2 separate regions of the Homo sapiens genome follow, and region 1 is reported to be linked to region 2. Evidence: microRNA targets listed by miRTarBase, many of them from high-throughput screens and not tested one by one. Region 2 holds a microRNA gene; the other region holds the end of a gene's coding sequence. Distances are between the middles of the regions.
Evidence for each region. The annotated mature microRNA hsa-miR-6823-5p reads UCAGGGUUGGUAGGGGUUGCU and lies in region 2 at 1,366-1,386, opposite strand. An mRNA with a match to its seed (bases 2 to 7 or 8) in the 3' UTR can be bound and repressed. Matches are read on the target gene's strand: a 7mer-m8 pairs with bases 2 to 8, a 7mer-A1 pairs with bases 2 to 7 and ends in A, and an 8mer does both.

Region 1 (4,061 bases), 5.3 Mb from region 2:
CTTGTGTACTTCTCAGCATCGTAAGTGTCTTTGCCAATTGCATTTCCTAGAAAAGTTGTACTGTTTTGATAGGCAGCTGGCTGGTTTAGAAAAACCAGTTAGCCATAGAACTGACATCACGCAGAGAGCCCCGACTCCCTGATTAGCCCACCCCAACTCAAAATCTGACTCCAGGGATGTTTTGTTGAAAATGTTATTTCTCTAAAACAGTATTTCTTTTCCTCTCCTGGGGACTAGGAGGGCAGGAGACAATGAGGAGCAGGCCTGGGCCCTGGTTCCAACATCAAGAGTGACAGGGTGGTCTCAGGGATGTCCTGTGAGGGCAGCCTGAGCCACTAAACAGGTCCAGTAGAGATGGTATTTTATCTTTAAAAAATCTGTATTGGATCTGATGTTAAGTTGGCTTATCAGTAGAAGCATGAAACCACTTCTGAGTGGCGGGACATGGTTGGGTGGAGAAGAATCTGTTTTTTTGTTGTTTTTTTTTGAGACAGTCTCACTCTGTCACCCAGGGTGGAGTGCAGTGGTGCAATCTTGGCTCACTGCAGCCTGCGCCACCCAGGTTCAAGCGATTCTCCTGTATCGGCCTCCCAAGTAGCTGGGACTACAGGCGTGCACCACCATGCCCAGCTAATTTTTGTATTTTTAGTAGAGACGGGGTTTCACCATGTTGGCCAGGCTGGTCTCAAACTCCTGGCCTCAAGTGATCCACCCACCTCAGCCTTGCAAAGTGCTGGGATTACAGGCGTGAGCCACCATGCCTAGCCAAGAAGAATCTATTTGAATTCGTGGAGATGATGCCTGCAACCTTCGCTACAAGCAGAAAGACTAGATGTTTGGGTGCCTACAACTCCTGCTTCAGGAACTCACCATCTCCAGTCAGGCTGCCAGATGCTCTTGGCTCCCACACAGCCCACCCCTATCCCCTATTCCATCAGGAGCTGCCTTCTACTAGTGCAGCGGCTTCAACACAGGCTTCTGCAATAGGTCAGGGCTCCTGAGAGCACTGGGCACATGGACAGCGCATTCTGTTGTGCTCTTTGAGCCATTTTTGCAAAGCACGTTTCTCTGTTTTTAGGTACTGCAAGCTTTTGGCCAAGGGGCCCAATTCCCTATGAGACTGAAGATGGGGGGGTACCCTCTGTGCACCCCACTTTGTAGCAAGTGCCTTTCTCCCCCATGCTGGCTTCCTCAGGTGACAGCCTCTCCTCCTGGGGTGAATGAAAGACTCCCTTCATGGCAGGGGAACGCTCAGGTTCTGGACATGTGACACTTACCATCTTTTCTTTTAAACCTCATTCCTGTTTATGGCCAAATTGTGCGATTGTGTAGAACATGGCTAAGTATTTGAGAGTGAAAGAAGGGCCTGGGTGCAATTGAGCAGCATCACCAATGGGCTCCTCTTACCATATGACGTTTTGCTTATTTTAAAATACAGCCACCAGACTGAACCCACCATGGTCTCAGACACTGACACACCCATGGGACACAGAGATGGTAGAACTAAGTGACTGTCACCCTGCCATATCCATACCTGTTCCAGAGAAGAAGGGTCAGCACAGTCATGGTTGGTCCAGGACTATCCCCTGCCCCTGAATCCACACACGCTCCAGCAGGAAAGCTGCACGAGGCCCTCCAAGTTACGGGGCTGGCACCTGAACTCCTGTTTCTGCACTCTTGCAGGCAGCCCCGAGACCCAGGTGACTGATGGCCATGGACTGCTGCTGTGGGGCAGGTGGGGACCCTCCGTAGGAGAAATAAGTCTCTTGGCCGGTTTAGAATTTTCTTTCTTGACCCTCTCTTCGAACAAAAATTTTAAAAAATACAGGTAAGATTAAACAAGAGCTGCTTAAGATTTTTAAAAGGAGAGGTGTGATGGGTTTCTTCCTGCTGCCTCTCTCGAAGGTTTTTCTCAGAAAACTAACTTGTGGCTGTCGGACGCCCCCCCCCCCCGCCCCAGTCTGTAAGCCGCCCCAATCCTCTCAGATCCGAGCAAAGCCTGGAATCCCCCAATTTCCTCCCGTCCTTATTCTGGGCCTAGTATAGCTGCAGGTTTCCACGCAACAATGCTTTTCTTCCCAGCCCTTGACGGTGGATGTGGATGTCTGGAAAAATCCAAGTGCATTTTATTTTCATTACCTTGTCAGAACAGTCTGGAGAAGGCATCTCAGTTCAAATGTGAGTGACTGGATCACTTTATTGAATGGTAAGAAATTTAAAGAGCAAAGAGCTGTTGTAAATGCTACTTGTATTTTTTTTCCTCCAAAACTCCAGTCTTGAATTTATTTTTCTTTCACACAGGGGCATTTCTACAGCCACAGGGTGCATGGCTGTGCTTAACTGTGTTTTCCATCCTAGTCTGTTCCTGTGGACGTCTACAGAATAAGAATTAACCATCCTTGTCCACTGCTGGGATGGCTCAGGCTGCCAAGTCATTTCCCAAGACCAGTATGAGAGAGTCCTTTCTCGGGCTAGCTGCTTCAGTAGGAATCAGTGATCTGGTACGTGGGGTTTGCTCTTGGTTTCTGCATTTCTTGGTAAAAGGAAAACCTTTTAAAATGCTAAGTCATAAAACCTTTGGTAGTGAAGCCAAGCGGCATTCCCTCCAGACTCCTCTCCCCTTGAATAAGGTCCAAAAAAATCTCAGGTTTTTTTTTTTTTTTTTTTTTTTGAGACAGGGTCTCACCCTGTCACCCAGGCTGGAGTGCAGTGGTGCCATCAGGGTTCACAGGAGCCTCAACCTCCTGGGCTAAAGCCATCCTCCCGCCTCAGCCTCCCAAGTAGCTGGGACTACAGGTGTGTACCACCATGCCCAGCTAATTGTTTTCCAGAGACAAGGTCTCACTATGTTGCCCAGGCTGGTCTTGAACTCCTGAGCTCAAGTGACCTTCCCAAAGTGCTGGGATTACAGGTGTGAGCCCTGCACCTGGCCCTGGTTTAATAAGAACCAGAGCCACAACCCTCTCAGAGTGACCCAGTGGAGCCCCAGTTACCTGCCTCACTCTGAGAGTGAAATTAGGCAGCGAGAAAGGAAAAGCCAGTTTTTCAACCAGCAGGCAACTTTCCCCTCTCAACAGGGACACTGGGGACTTATGTGCCAGCCCAGGCTGAACTAACTACTGTGTGACTTACTGCCTCAGCTAAAGCTTGCAGCTCAAGAAGGAGGATGCCCCTTCCTTCGCGAACCCTCCGTGGGTCTGGCAGGCACCCAGCCTCTGTGCATGGCCTGGGAAGGAACCACTGCCCTGGGTTAGAGAATGCCACGTGAACACAAGAAAAAGGATGCGGCAGGAGTTAACCATCCTCCCCTTCTGTCCCTCCAGGAGGCAGGGAGGAACATCTCAGGCTGAATGCTGGCCTTCCCCAAATGGCCCACAGGGAAAGGCTGGGGAAAAGGAGCTGGATTCACTGCCCAGTACTTGTCTCATTTCCCAAGACTTTATCCAATTCTCAGCCACTGAGTAGGGTACCACCTGGGTCCTAGTGTGCTAGATAGTTTCAGGCAGGAGCCTGGGAGCAAGGGCTGTGCTGGCCCTCTTGGCTTATCAGGGGGCTTCCCTGGTCATCCTCCAGCAGCAACTGTCTTAGCGCTGGGTGGCCAGCGTCCTGGGCTTGTAGACAGGGACATCTTTGTCCCAGAGTGCAGGCTGCCCCTTGATAATGTCAGCTGCCTTCTCTGCGATCATGATTGTGGGGGCGTTCAGGTTGCCGCTGACCATGCTAGGCATGATGGAGGCATCGACGACCCTGAGGTTTTCCACCCCGAGGACCCTTGTCTGCGGATCCACCACGGCAGTGGGATCGGAGGGCTGGCCCATCTTACAGGTGCACGAGGGGTGGTAGGCGCTGTCGGCTTTTGCCCGCACAAAGGCATCTATCTCTTTATCTGACTGAATGTGGCTTCCTGGCTGGAGCTCTTTCCCTCGGAACGGAGCCAGGGCTTCCTGTGCAAAAATTTCTCTGGTGAGCTTCACACACAGACGGAAATCCTCAATATCAGTTTCTGTCGAGGAGAAGAAACAGGTGAGGACCCCTCCTTTTGCCCGTGCTGGCCTCACTGG
Region 2 (4,066 bases):
CTGGCCTGTCTGAGCCTCAGTTTCCTCATCTGTAAAAGTAGGGGGTGACAATGGGCATCAAGAACCCAGCACACGGTAGGTTCAGACATTAGTCCTCTACTTTTTATCTGGCTCAATATAACCAGAGGGTCCAGCCTTGATTTTTACCCACAATTTGGCCATAGAAACCTGAATATCAGGCTCCCCTTCCCTTCTTGGTGCCACAGCCTGGCCCAGCCACACCGATGCAAGAACAAAGGCAGTCTCCAGTCTGAAGGTCCAAGCCCCACAGCAGGGAGTTCCTGCCCCCTGGTGGCCAGAGAAGGAACGGGTAGCCTAGTGTGGACCCCAGTGGCAGCCTGGTAGCCACTGGGCTTGATTTGGGGAAGTCACTAGAGCTGGGTCAACCTCTGCTCACTGCCCTATCCTGATGGCTGGGCCAAGAGCAAGTCTCTGCCACCCTAGGTTGATAAGGGGCTTCTCAAGACCACAGCTAACACCTCCTGAGAAAAGCACAGCATGGCTGCTCAGACCACCAGCTGGTGCTCAGTTCCTTGAAGAAAGGACTCAGTTCAAGTCTGAAAGTTGTTGAGGGTGGGGCGGTAGCATATACATATTTCTATCTCCAGAGTAACAGCAGAAGTGTGAACGACTCACCCAGCAGCATCTAGGAGATGTCAATGCAAAGCCAATCGCACCAGCAATCACACACCAAGAACATGCTCCAAATACACAGGAGAGAGCTTATCCTGGGGCAAGGGAGGAAGCCCCCCACCCCCAGCTCCATCCCTAAGGCCTGTATGCCTGCACTCACTCAGGTTCCCTTCCCCAGCAGCAGCCATCCCCACGGGGCGCTGGGGTGAGCGAGCGTGACCTCCAGGCAGCAGCTCCAACGACCTGCATGGGCTGAGCCCCTCTTACCTCCCTGAAGCTCTGTCCTTCCCAAGGGTTCCTTAACCCCAGGGCAGGAATGGCCCAGCCACCAGGAGGCCACACAACACACCCTCTCCTCTCATCCCCAAACCCATCACCTCCCACCCCCACCACATCCTGAGAGATCCAGAGACCAGCCTTGTCACACAGCCCTGTCACACAGCCATCAGGGCTGGGCAAGGCCAGGGCTCAGGAGTAGCTCAGTCATTCACCAGCAGCTCCACTCCAGGGGCTTCTCAGTAAATGGTCAGTAATGTGTTAGCTTTCTCCACACTGGGTCCCCCAGCAACCTCTCCCCCCACACCCAACACATATACTTACTTCCTGATTTTCAGGCCCTCTTCATTGTCGGGGAGAAAAAATTCAAAAGATTTGTAGGTCTTGACCACGTCCCGGCGATACTGGCCAACATTGAACTCTGGAGGGAAGGAGAGGCTCAGCTTTCACAGCAACAGCAACCCCTACCAACCCTGACCTTGACCCAACCCCAGGCCAAATAATAGAGAATAGGCCTTCTCTATTCTCTTCGTCATGCCCCACAAAGCTCCCCTTAGACAGCTGGGGCCAAGCCTCACCCCGAGTGGGCACACCAATCCAGTTCAGGTATCGAGTCAGCTTCTTGGAGATGTAGGTCTTGCCCCTGGCGGGCAGGCCCACCATGACAATGAGAGTTGGGCAGTTGGTCATGCACACTAAAAGGCAAGCAGCACAGTGTCAGATGAGGGCTGGGACCCTCCCAGCGCACCCCTCCCTCTCAGCCTGTGGTCTCTCAGCCTCAGGGCATGGGACTGGCATCAGACGTATCTTCTTGGCTTCCTAGCATCCCCACACAGCTCCTGGAGTGGCCCCAGATGCTGGTTTCAAGCCACCGTTGGCATGTCCCCCTTCCCCAGGCCCGCCTGGGCTCTGGCAGACACAGTGGGATCTCTCCAGCCCTTTTCATCCTGATGTGCACCACCAGGCATAAAGTCAACCGAACTTGCCACTGGCTAAACATGGCTAGGGGGGTCCCCACCGCATGAAGGACAGGACCAAAACCCAGCAGGGTAATCAACACCCTGCCTCTGTCATCCAGGAATCCATACCCTAACCTTTTTACATCTCTCCCACCCCATCCATCACTCAGTGCTCCCAGAACACATAGCCCCACTGCATGCCCTCCCTGTGGTGAACTTCTTTTCATCATACAAAGCCCAGCTAAAAAGTCACTTCCTCAATGAGTCCTTTCCCCAAGGCATCTCCATGGCCACCGGGAACACCCCTCACCCTCAATCCTGGTCACCTCACTAATGACACTCTTCTCTCTAGACTGATCACTTACAGCAGAAGAAGCCCTGTGGTATCTGAGCCCTTTAGGGCCCTGGGGCCTGGCACAGCGCTGGTGCTCAGGAACTGTGGGCAGGATCAGGGAGGGAGGCATCTAGAAGTCTCTCAGGGTAAGGACCACAAGGGGTTGAGACCAGAGACCCAGACTGATGCCCACAAGGACAGTCCCTCTGATAGCCCACCCACCACCATCCATGTGCCACAGGTCAGTGTGCCAGCCAGAGAAGATGCCAGGCTAGAGGCACGGAAGGATCTGAATACAGCCCCCTATATTCCCAGCTGGCTAGAACAGATACCAAGGCAGCAGAACTGCCAGCTTCATCTTATGGGACCTAGCTCACTTTTCTTTTTTTTTTTTTTTTTTTGAGACGGAGTCTCACTCTGTTGCCCAGGCTGGAGGGCAGTGGTGCGATCTTGGCTCACTGCAACCTCTGCCTCCCAGGTTCAAGCGATTCTCCTGCCTCAGCCTCCCAAGTATCTAGGATTACAGACACCTGCCACCACACCTGGCTAATTTTTGTATTTTCAGTAGAGACGGGGTTTCGGCATGTTGGTCAGGCTGGTCTCAAAACTCCTGACCTCAGGTGATCCGACTGCCTGGGCCTCCCAAAGTGCTGGGATTACAGGTGTGAGCCATCACCTCCAGCCTTCTTTTTTTTTTTTTTTTTTTTTTTTTTTTTTTTTGAGAGGGAGTCTCGCTCTGTCGCCCTTGCCCAGGCTGGAGTGCTGGAGGACACTGGTACCCAGCTCACTGCAACCTCTGCCTCCCGGGCTCAAGCAATTCTCGTGCCTCAGCCTCTCAAGTAGCTGGGATTACAAGCACATGCCACCACACCTGGCTAATTTTTGTATTTTCAGTAGAGACAGGATTTCATTATGTTAGTCAGGCTGGTCTCGAATTCCTGACCTCAGGTGATCTGCCTGCCTCGTCCTCCCAAAGTGCTGGGATTACAGGCGTGAGCCCAGCCCTCAGCTCAGTTTCCAGTGCCATCAAACGCGGTCTCACGTCAGAAGCCTCAGGAAGCTTCCTTTTCCTCATCCTTAGGACCTGGGTCAGGTAAAACCATAGCAGACAGGCAGATGAACAGATGTGGGGACCTGTCACTGCCCCTCTTCTTGGTTCTGCAAGTGCCTTCACCTGGTTGCCTAGACAGACTGTCCCCACCAACAAGTTGTTTCCCTCAGAGCACAGAGGCCCCAGAAGCACTTCCGCAGGGGATCAGGAGTCAGGCCTGGGTTGCCATCTTGAGTCTGACACTCATTGGGAACTCTGAGCCTCGGTGTCCCCAGCTGTAAAATGGGGCAGTCATCCCTCAGAGAAGCCTAGTGCTATCCAAGAGCCTGGGCACTTCTGGGAAGCTGTGCCCTCTGTCCTACCCTGGCGGATACTGAGCTAAAGCCATAGGTGTACCTCGGCACCGACTGCCCTTGGGACTCAGGGCATGGAGGCGGTGGCCTGGCCCCAGGCAGGCCCTGCAGAGAAACAAAGGGCCTTGCTTGCCAGTGGGGGCTCCATCACTCCTGTGCATTCCCCTTGTTTAAAGGTGACCCAAATGGTGAGCCTCAGGGGCGGGAAGGAGGAGACCCCATGAAACAGGCTGACTGAGTGAGAGTGGAGAAACTTGCAGAGAACTCTCAGTATTAGCTAAGGTGAGAGGAAAACAAGTTAGGCAAGGCCTTGCCTCCTCAGGGCCGGTGGACAGCTGAGGCCCGCATTGTGCATTGTTTGCATAGTTCCCGGCCAGGTGGCCGGGCTCTCAAGCAACCAAGGGCAGTGCGACAGCTGCTAAGCAGGAGGAAATCCTGCATCTACCCTGCTCCCGCTGAT

Region 1: the mRNA of CHDH is a reported target of hsa-miR-6823-5p. Seed matches in the 3' UTR shown: 8mer at 2,719-2,726.

Annotation. Positions count from the first base shown.
Region 1 is chr3:53,814,193-53,818,253 of GRCh38, forward strand. CHDH (choline dehydrogenase) reads right to left here. Exons shown (of 9, transcript NM_018397.5): 9 at 1-4,003. The coding sequence ends at 3,585. Among named protein-coding and RNA genes, the nearest start is that of CHDH, 30 kb to the right of the region's middle.
Region 2 is chr3:48,548,631-48,552,696 of GRCh38, forward strand. MIR6823 (microRNA 6823) reads right to left here and starts at 1,391; the gene lies at 1,331-1,391. It overlaps PFKFB4 (6-phosphofructo-2-kinase/fructose-2,6-biphosphatase 4), which reads right to left. Exons shown (of 14, transcript NM_004567.4): 2 at 1,488-1,604; 3 at 1,234-1,330. RefSeq lists enhancers at 1,802-2,465, 2,466-3,127, 3,128-3,791, 3,792-4,066.